Regions from separate parts of the Homo sapiens genome. Here region 1 is linked to region 2. Evidence: fine-mapped expression QTL. Tissue or cell type: whole blood. Region 2 holds a variant in brackets; the other region holds the start of a gene. All regions are shown on one strand. Distances are between the middles of the regions. Region 1 holds the start of PPARD (peroxisome proliferator activated receptor delta). Region 2 has its middle 24 kb from the start of SCUBE3.

Evidence for each region. PIP is the estimated chance that this variant, and not a neighbour inherited with it, causes the effect. A credible set is the group of variants that fine-mapping cannot tell apart.
Region 1: PPARD starts here. The variant in region 2 is the best candidate, but not a certain one, in a credible set for the expression of PPARD in whole blood (TOPMed, PIP 0.59).

Annotation. Positions count from the first base shown.
Region 1 is chr6:35,340,386-35,344,385 of GRCh38, reverse strand. PPARD (peroxisome proliferator activated receptor delta) reads right to left here and starts at 1,828. Exons shown (of 8, transcript NM_006238.5): 1 at 1,705-1,828. RefSeq lists silencers at 1,367-1,416, 1,447-1,586, 1,767-1,976.
Region 2 is chr6:35,187,680-35,191,679 of GRCh38, reverse strand. No RefSeq gene overlaps it. Among named protein-coding and RNA genes, the nearest start is that of SCUBE3, 24 kb to the left of the region's middle. The variant G/A (reference allele first, on the strand shown) is at 2,131.

The DNA of each region.
Region 1 (4,000 bases), 150 kb before region 2:
TGCTCAAGTTCCTGACAAGGTCTAACTACTGCAGCCCCACAGCCCACCAGGGTAGTTATCAATCTGATACCTCATACTATGCCTGGGCAAAGGGAACAGAGCTCTGGGATTGCCGTTCCTCCTGGATACAGAGGAAATTAAGCTCCCAGGGAAAAAGAGGGACAATTTGGATTCCCTAGATTCAGAAAAGAACAAAGAAAAAAGAGGGAGAAGAGACTCCAAGAGAACATGTTCAGTGACCAACATCAGAGGCACATTCAGTTGGCCAAAGATTGTCAAAGAGATATGAGAGAAAATCAGCAGCTGTTTCAAGCCACCAATAATAAAAGGGGACAGATGCCCGCCAGCCCCAGGGCTATCAGGCCAGCAATCTATTTCAAAACTCAAACGGGAAAAAAAAAAGTTCTGGAGCCAGTACACAGAAAAAAGGTTGAGGACCACAAGTATTTTCTGGAGCACAGCTTCTGGAGAATTCTCTTAGTCCTTTCGGATGGAGCACAGGGTGGAGGGTGGGAGTGAGGGCAGAGAGAGGCTGGGGTATCATGGTATAAGTGTATTCCACACATCCAGAGTGGAAAGACACAAAACCCCGGTTCCTGGAAGGGGAAAAGAATTGGACAAAGCCTCCGGCTACCCGTGGCACACATCCAGCTCAGCGCCGTCTCCCCCAAGGGTTCCTGGAAGTCAACAGCCCCATAAAGGGGAAGTATTAAAGCTGAGATAAGAAGAATGGCCTACAAATTGGACATCATCTCTGATGCAACACCCACGTACATTCTCCCACACAATCTGTTATTTCCTTTAGTCAATCAGCCTCTTAATTCGATCAAGGTCTGAACACCTCCACCCCCACCCCATGGTTATGTCAACTGCAGGTCAAGTGAAAGTAGAGTAGAGTGTGGAGCTAAGGCTTCTCCCTGAAGCAGGGGAAAGGAACAGGGAGAGAAAAGGAGGTGGGCGACAGGAATGTAGGGGACAGAATTGATACGAAGGAAATCGGAAAAAGGAGCAAAAACAGGGCCTCTCAGGGAACCAAGGTGAGAGTCTTAGGGAGACAGGGACTGCAGGCACGGAGTTGGAAAAAGCCTAGGAACACCCTGGGGAAGAGGATGGGGACCCATAATACTAGGAGGGATCAGACCACAGATAAGAAGGGGACAGGGATGGGGAGAGAGAGTAAAGCCTGAGAGAGCAAGGATGGGAGGATGAAGGCAGGAGACAAGGATAACGAGGGGGACAGAGGAAAAGATCCCAGAGAAGACTCTCGCTAGATAGGGCAGTGGATTCAGGAACACCAGAAACGGGTGAAGGAAGAGGTCAGAGGCAGGGGAGGGGAATGGGAGAGGCCCCCGGGCCTGAGACGGGGTTCTCACAAGTGGGAGAAGACGAAGCCACCAGGCCCAAGAGGGGGCAAAGAGTAGGGTGGAAGGAGGCCCGTATTTCGGACTCACTCAAGCAGCTATGGGGGTCCAAGGGCGGGGGGGCGCAGGGTCAGCGGGGCGCCTACATGGCAACGCACGACGGCTGACCGGAGCGGGCCGGAGCATCAGGAAGCCGCCGTGACGCTGTCCGCGGACCCCGGCAGCTCCCCGCACCCCGTTCCCCGCCGCCGGGCCTTGCGCCCCAGTCCCGCTGGCCGCCTCGGCCCAGGCCCGGCGCTTCCCTCCGCCACTTGCCTGACCGCTTCTCTCGTCTCGGACTGACCTGTCCCGGCTGCCTACGGCGCCACCGCCGCCGTCCCGCAGGCTCCGCAGAATTCTCCCGCTCCTGCCAAAACTTTTCCCATTAATCCCCAGGTCCGCGGCGGCCGCAGCGTCACACGCTCCGCGGCCCGGCCCCGCCCCCGCCAGCGAGACGTCACCGCGCTGCTCGGCCTTTCCCTCCCCACGCCCCCTTCCGCCCGGCGGCGGCCAATCACCACGCCTCCTGGAGACTCCCCTAATTCTGCCTCTCCGCCCACCGCACGCTGCCCCGGGCCAGCCTGTGGCGCCCTCTGGTGCGGGATGCGGACGTAGCAGCTAAGGGAGGAGCAGGGGAGCGCCAGGTCCAGTAGAACAAGTCCAGCAAGTGACACAAGAGGGAATTTAAAGCTGGAAGGGAATTTCTAGGTCATCTAGTGCAACCTCCTCATCTTCCAGTGAAGAAACTTAGTCCTAGAAAAGGTACGTGACTTGCAGTGACAAGTCTGGAGAGACTCTTAACCCAGTGCTAGGTCCACTGGAGGAGATCATATCGCCTATAATTTTCAAAAAAGGGCTTTCCGCCTTCAAGAGGCTTCTACAACTGGAAATTTACGGTCTTAGAGTTCTTAACCTTTCTTCCCATGTGCTTATGCAATACGCTTATTCACCTAAAATAGGGGACATCCTCCTTATTGTTGTAGAAAATTCTGTTCTTATTAATCCACATCTTTAAGACCTGGAAGGGACCTATTATCCCAACCTACCGCTTAAGATGTACCACAGGAAACTACCTAGCAGCTGGGAGGCAATCTGGTGGAAGAAGTTGGCTTTCATCTGACGATGAACAAAGCTTGACTCTCAGGTATATGACCAATGCCTCCCCTCCATCATCATTAAAGATGACCCCTCCCCTCTCCTTCGGCCACACCTTCCGTAGGCCGCAAGCTCCTTAGGCCACACCTAGCTATCTGGATGAGTGATTTTTTTTTTTTTTTTTTTTTTTGAGACACAGTTTCACTCTGTCGCCCCTGCTGGAGTGCAGTTGCGCAATCTCAGCCCGCTGCAACCTCCGCCTCCCGGGTTCAAGCGATTATCCTGCCTCAACCTCCCAAGTAGCTGGGATTACAGGCATGCGCCACACGCCCAGCTAATTATTGTAATTTTAGTAGAGACAGGGTTTTGCCATGTTGCCCAGGCTGGTCTTGAACTCCTGGACTCAAGTTATCCTCCCACCTTAGCCTCCCAAAGTGCTGGAATTACAGGCGTGAGCCACCGTGCCTGGCAGGGATGAGTGATTTTTTCCCCCTTCTTTCTGCTTCTCTTTTTCTTTTTCTTTTTTTTCCCCTACTTTTTGAAATGCTTGTGCATTATATTTGTAACTTAGATGTCAACCTCCTTGCCCTTTGAGATTGAGGTAAAAATGGACGGTGAAAGTCAGAGTCCCTCCCTTAACATATTTGCAAATATCTGGGGATTTATATTCTCCTAAATATCTCTGCCTCTGGGTTTCTGCTTTTGCCAGGCTGTTGCGTACCACAGTTCAGAAGTCTGGAGAGGAAACTCAGCTCTCCCTAAGGACTGCCCGCACCCTTCCCACACAAAACATTGACGAGTACAAAGACATTAGGGTACTCTGGGCCCTGGGGGAGGTCATATGATACATGGCAAACAGTTTAAACTCACCCCTCAGAAGTTTTTTTTTTTTTTTTTTCCCAAGGCAGAAGAATTTTTCTTAGTGCAGAACAAAATGAGAAGTCTCCCATGTCTACTTCTTTCTACACAGACACGGCAACCATCCGATTTCTCAATCTTTTCCCCACCTTTCCCGCCTTTCTATTCCACAAAGTCGCCATTGTCATCCTGGCCCGTTCTCAATGAGCTGTTGGGCACACCTCCCAGACGGGGTGGTGGCCGGGCAGAGGGGCTCCTCACTTCCCAGTAGGGGCGGCCGGGCAGAGGCGCCCCTCACCTCCCAGACGGGGCGGCTGGCCGGGTGGGGGGCTGACCCCCCTACCTCCCTCCCGGACGGGGCGGCTGGCCGGGCGGGGGGCTGACCCCCCACCTCCCTCCCGGACGGGGTGGCTGCCGGGCGGAGACGCTCCTCACTTCCCAGATGGGGTGGCTGCCGGGCGGAGAGGCTCCTCACTTCTCAGACGGGGCAGCTGCCGGGCGGAGGGGCTCCTCACTTCTCAGACGGGGTGGTTGCCAGGCAGAGGGTCTCCTCACTTCTCAGACGGGGCGGCCGGGCAGAGACGCTCTTCACCTCCCAGACGGGGTCGCTGCCGGGCAGAGGCGCTCCTCATATCCCAGATGGGGCG
Region 2 (4,000 bases):
CTCTCCAATACTTCTGTTTATTCCCTCATGTTCCATCCTTCCAGCCAGCTTGGCACCTCATCATTTCCTACCTCCCCCGTCATGGGACCCTCTGCTTTCTTTCTACCTGTCTGAATTCTGAAGACTCTCCCAGGGCTTGTTCCCCCATCTTGCCTCCTCCTGGGAGCCTCCCTGGACTACTGTAGCGCTTGGCAGGATCTCCTCCTTCTGAAATGTAAAAGTATGTGTTTTCTATCCTTTCTGTGATTCTAAACACACCCTGCCCCTATACCACCTGCCCAGCTAAATAGAGGCCAGAGGCCATGGCTTTTGTGCCTTGGCGTCCAAGCCCCATCCTGCCTTGTACAAAGCAATTGCTCAACTAATATTTGTTGGTTTGGGGCTTCTTAAGGGCTACCCATGAGATTACCAACAAATTAGAGAATTTCAGTGATGGAAGGGACCTAAGAGCTTGAATTCTTGCTAAGGGGTGTCTGGGTTCAGCTTACATACCTTTAATGACAGGGATCTTACCACTTCCTGGGGCAACCCATTCCCTTGCCTGTAACTCTGACCATAAGAAAGTTCTTCCCCACGTTGAGCTAAAACCTGCTGCCTTCTGGCTTTCCCCACCCTACTCCCAACTAGGTCACATCAAACTATTCCAGTCCTCTTTCCTCACGACCACCCTTCAGATATTTGAGGGCAGCAATCTCCTACCTCTGCAGTCTTTTCTTTTCCAGGGGGAAACACCTGTAGTCCTAACCTTCAGTGCCCCAATGCCCCTGATGACCATGGACTTTGGGTATTCCCCCCCACCCCTGTGCTGGGCCTCTCCCACATCCCTGCTGAACTCATTCTTCTCACAAAATCCCCCTTCTTTTGGGGTTAGGATGGATGTTACAAGCTTTCAAATGGGGCTTGCCTCCGTGTAGTGATTTGAGACATCCTAAAAGAAGGAAATCACTCTCTCACGGGGTTTTTTAAAAAATGAGGAGATGAGAGGAGTCCAGCAGCTGCCCTCTCCTCTCCTGAGGTAGCAGAATCCAATAACCAATTTTACCTGCACATGTCAGTGGAGGTAAAATTGCCACACACCTCAAAGGTTGTCTTGTGGGTCATTTATGTACATTTTAATATGGCTATTTCAGAGGGACTAGCAAATGTTTTAAACCAAAGGGGTGACTCATGGTGGCATTTCAGGCCAGTGAAATATTTTGGGAGAAGCAGGTCTTGTGGTGCCTGGCCTGCCTCTGCCTTGGCTCTCTCTGGGTGATGGAGAGCTTCCTGTCCCAAGTATATTGGCATTAGGACCAGGTACTTCCCAAGAGGCTGCCCCCTCCATACCCTGGCCCTCATAGCCTGTGCTAATTATTGAAACTTATGCTTTCCTGCATTGTAGAGTTGACTATCTTTCTTATGTATCTTTTTCTTATAGCAAATGAAGGACTCCTTGAAAGAAGTGGCAGGGATCTCAAAAATATTCTTATCAATGTTCTGTATCTTGATCATAGTGGTGTTTACACAAGGGTATGCATTTATGGAAACTCATCAAACTGGACACTTTAAGTCTGGGGTACCCAACCCCCAGACCAGTACCTGTCTGTGGTCTGTTAGGGACTGGGCTGTATAGCAGGAGGTGAGCAGCGGGCAGGTGAGCATTACCACCTGTGCTCGGCCTCCTATCAGATCAGTGGCAGCATTAGATTTTCACAGGCACTCAAACACTATTGTGAACCACGCATGCAAGGGATCCAGGTTGCATGCTCCTTGTGAGAATCTAATGCCTGATGATCTGAGGTGGAACAATTTCATCCTGAAACTACCCTCACCCTATTCCTGGTCCATGGAAAAATTCTCTTCCACAAAACTGGTCCCTGGTGCCAAAAAGGTCGGGGACTGCTGCTTTAAGTGGTTGCATTTTATTGTATGTGAATTATAACTTGATTAAGGTGGTTTTTAAAAAATGTTTTCATATCCCTTAGAGAGTCTGGAGTCACATCCTGCTGATACCTGGGTTCAATGTGCATTTCTGGATTGATTTCCTTAGTTAAGCTATACCCAGAGCTATAGCCAAGAGCCATTTTAGCTTTTATTCTCAACTCCTGATCTGACAGGAGGCAGAGCACAGGTGGTAATGCTCACCTGCCC[G/A]CTGCTCACCTCCTGCTGTGCAGCCCAGTCCCTAACAGACCACAGACAGGTACTAGTCTAGGGGTTGGGTACCCCAGACTTAAAGTGTCCAGTTTGATGAGTTTCCATAAATGCATACCCTTGTGTAAACACCACTATGATCAAGATACAGAACATTGATAAGAATATTTTTGAGATCCCTGCCACTTCTTTCAAGGAGTCCTTCATTTGCTATAAGAAAAAGATATATAAGAAAGATAATCAACTCTACAATGCAGGAAAGCATAAGTTTCAATAATTAGCACACTGCTGACTTGACGTGGCTCCTCAAACAACCAGACAGAAATAGAGCTCTCCATTCACTGACCTTGCCTCTGACCCGATCCTCCTACCTGGTGGCTCAGGCCCAAATCCCAGGAGACACACTTGATTCCTCACCCTGCCTGTCTTGCAGGATTGCTTTAATATGATTATTGGCACCACTAATACTGCTGTGATTACAGTTCCCTCATACACCTGCCCCCAGCCTAGTCTTGCCAACTGCTTACCTAGAGAATTGAAGGCTTCTTGTTGGCCTTCTGAATGCAGGGGCACTACCACCCAAGGGTGATTCACCAGACCGTGGCTGTTGCCTTGAGCCTTCCAGCCACCCTGTTCCAGAAGCCTGAGGGGCCACCAGCTTTGAGCCAAGGTTCTAGCCATCCTGTCTGAGCTTGGCTGAAGGTGTTTGGGCCCTCAGATCCTAGGCCCTTCTGCCCAAGCACCTGGCTTTTGTCTTGTCATGAGTTTATGAGCATGTCCTTTAAAAAGAAGACAGTGGGCTGGGCGCAGTGGCTCATGCCTGTAATCCCAGCACTTTGGGAGGCCGAGGCGGGCGGATCACAAGGTCAGGAGATCGAGACCATCCTGGCTAACATGGTGAAACCCTGTCTCTACTAAAAATACAAAAAAAAAATTAGCCAGGCATGGTGGTGGGCGCCTGTAGTCCCAGCTACTTGGGAGGCTGAGGCAGGAGAATGGCGTGAACCTGGGAGGCAGAGCTTGCAGTGAGCCAAGATCATGCCACTGCACTCCAGCCTGGGCAACAGAGCAAGACTCCATCTCCAAAAAAAAGAAAAAAAAAGAAGACAGTGGTTTCCTGTGGGTAAGAGAATGAGGTGATTTCTCACCAGACTGCAAGCTCACTGAGGGCAGAGACTGAGTTCTATCCCCCTTCATTACCCTCAGCTTCTAGTTGTGTGCTTGGTACGTAGATGGTGTTTGATAAACATATATGAACTGACTTAATGAGTTCAATTTAGGCCAGGCACAGTGGCTCACGCCAGTAATCCTAGCACTTTGGGAGGCTGAGGTGGGAGGATCGCTTGAGACCAGGAGTTCAAGATCAGTCTGGGCAACATGATGAAACCCTGTTTCTACAAAAAATACAAAAAAAACTAGCAGAGCCTGGTAGTGCACATCTGTAGTCCTAGTTACTTGGGAGGTTGAGGTGGGAGGATCACTTGAGCCTGGGGGCAGATGTTGTAGTGAGCTGTGATTGCACCACTGCACTCCAGTCTGGGTGACAGAGTGAGACCCCGTATCAAAAGGAAAAAAGAGTTCAACTTTATTAAAACCTTCGGGGAATGTCCCACTCATCAAACATAACCAAGTGATGGTGAGGATGTGGAATGACTTGGTAAAACCATTTTAGAGAGCTATTTGGCAATATGTCATCAATAGGAAGATGCCCTCCTAAGTCTTTACTCTGAAGAAGCTCTGTTTTGTAGGTGCATAAGAATGTTCATGGCAGTGCTGTATGTAATCATGAAAAGCTGGAAGCAGCTGACATGGAGACTGGACATTACGGTAGTCACACAAGGGACTGTATACAGCACAGAACCAATCACAG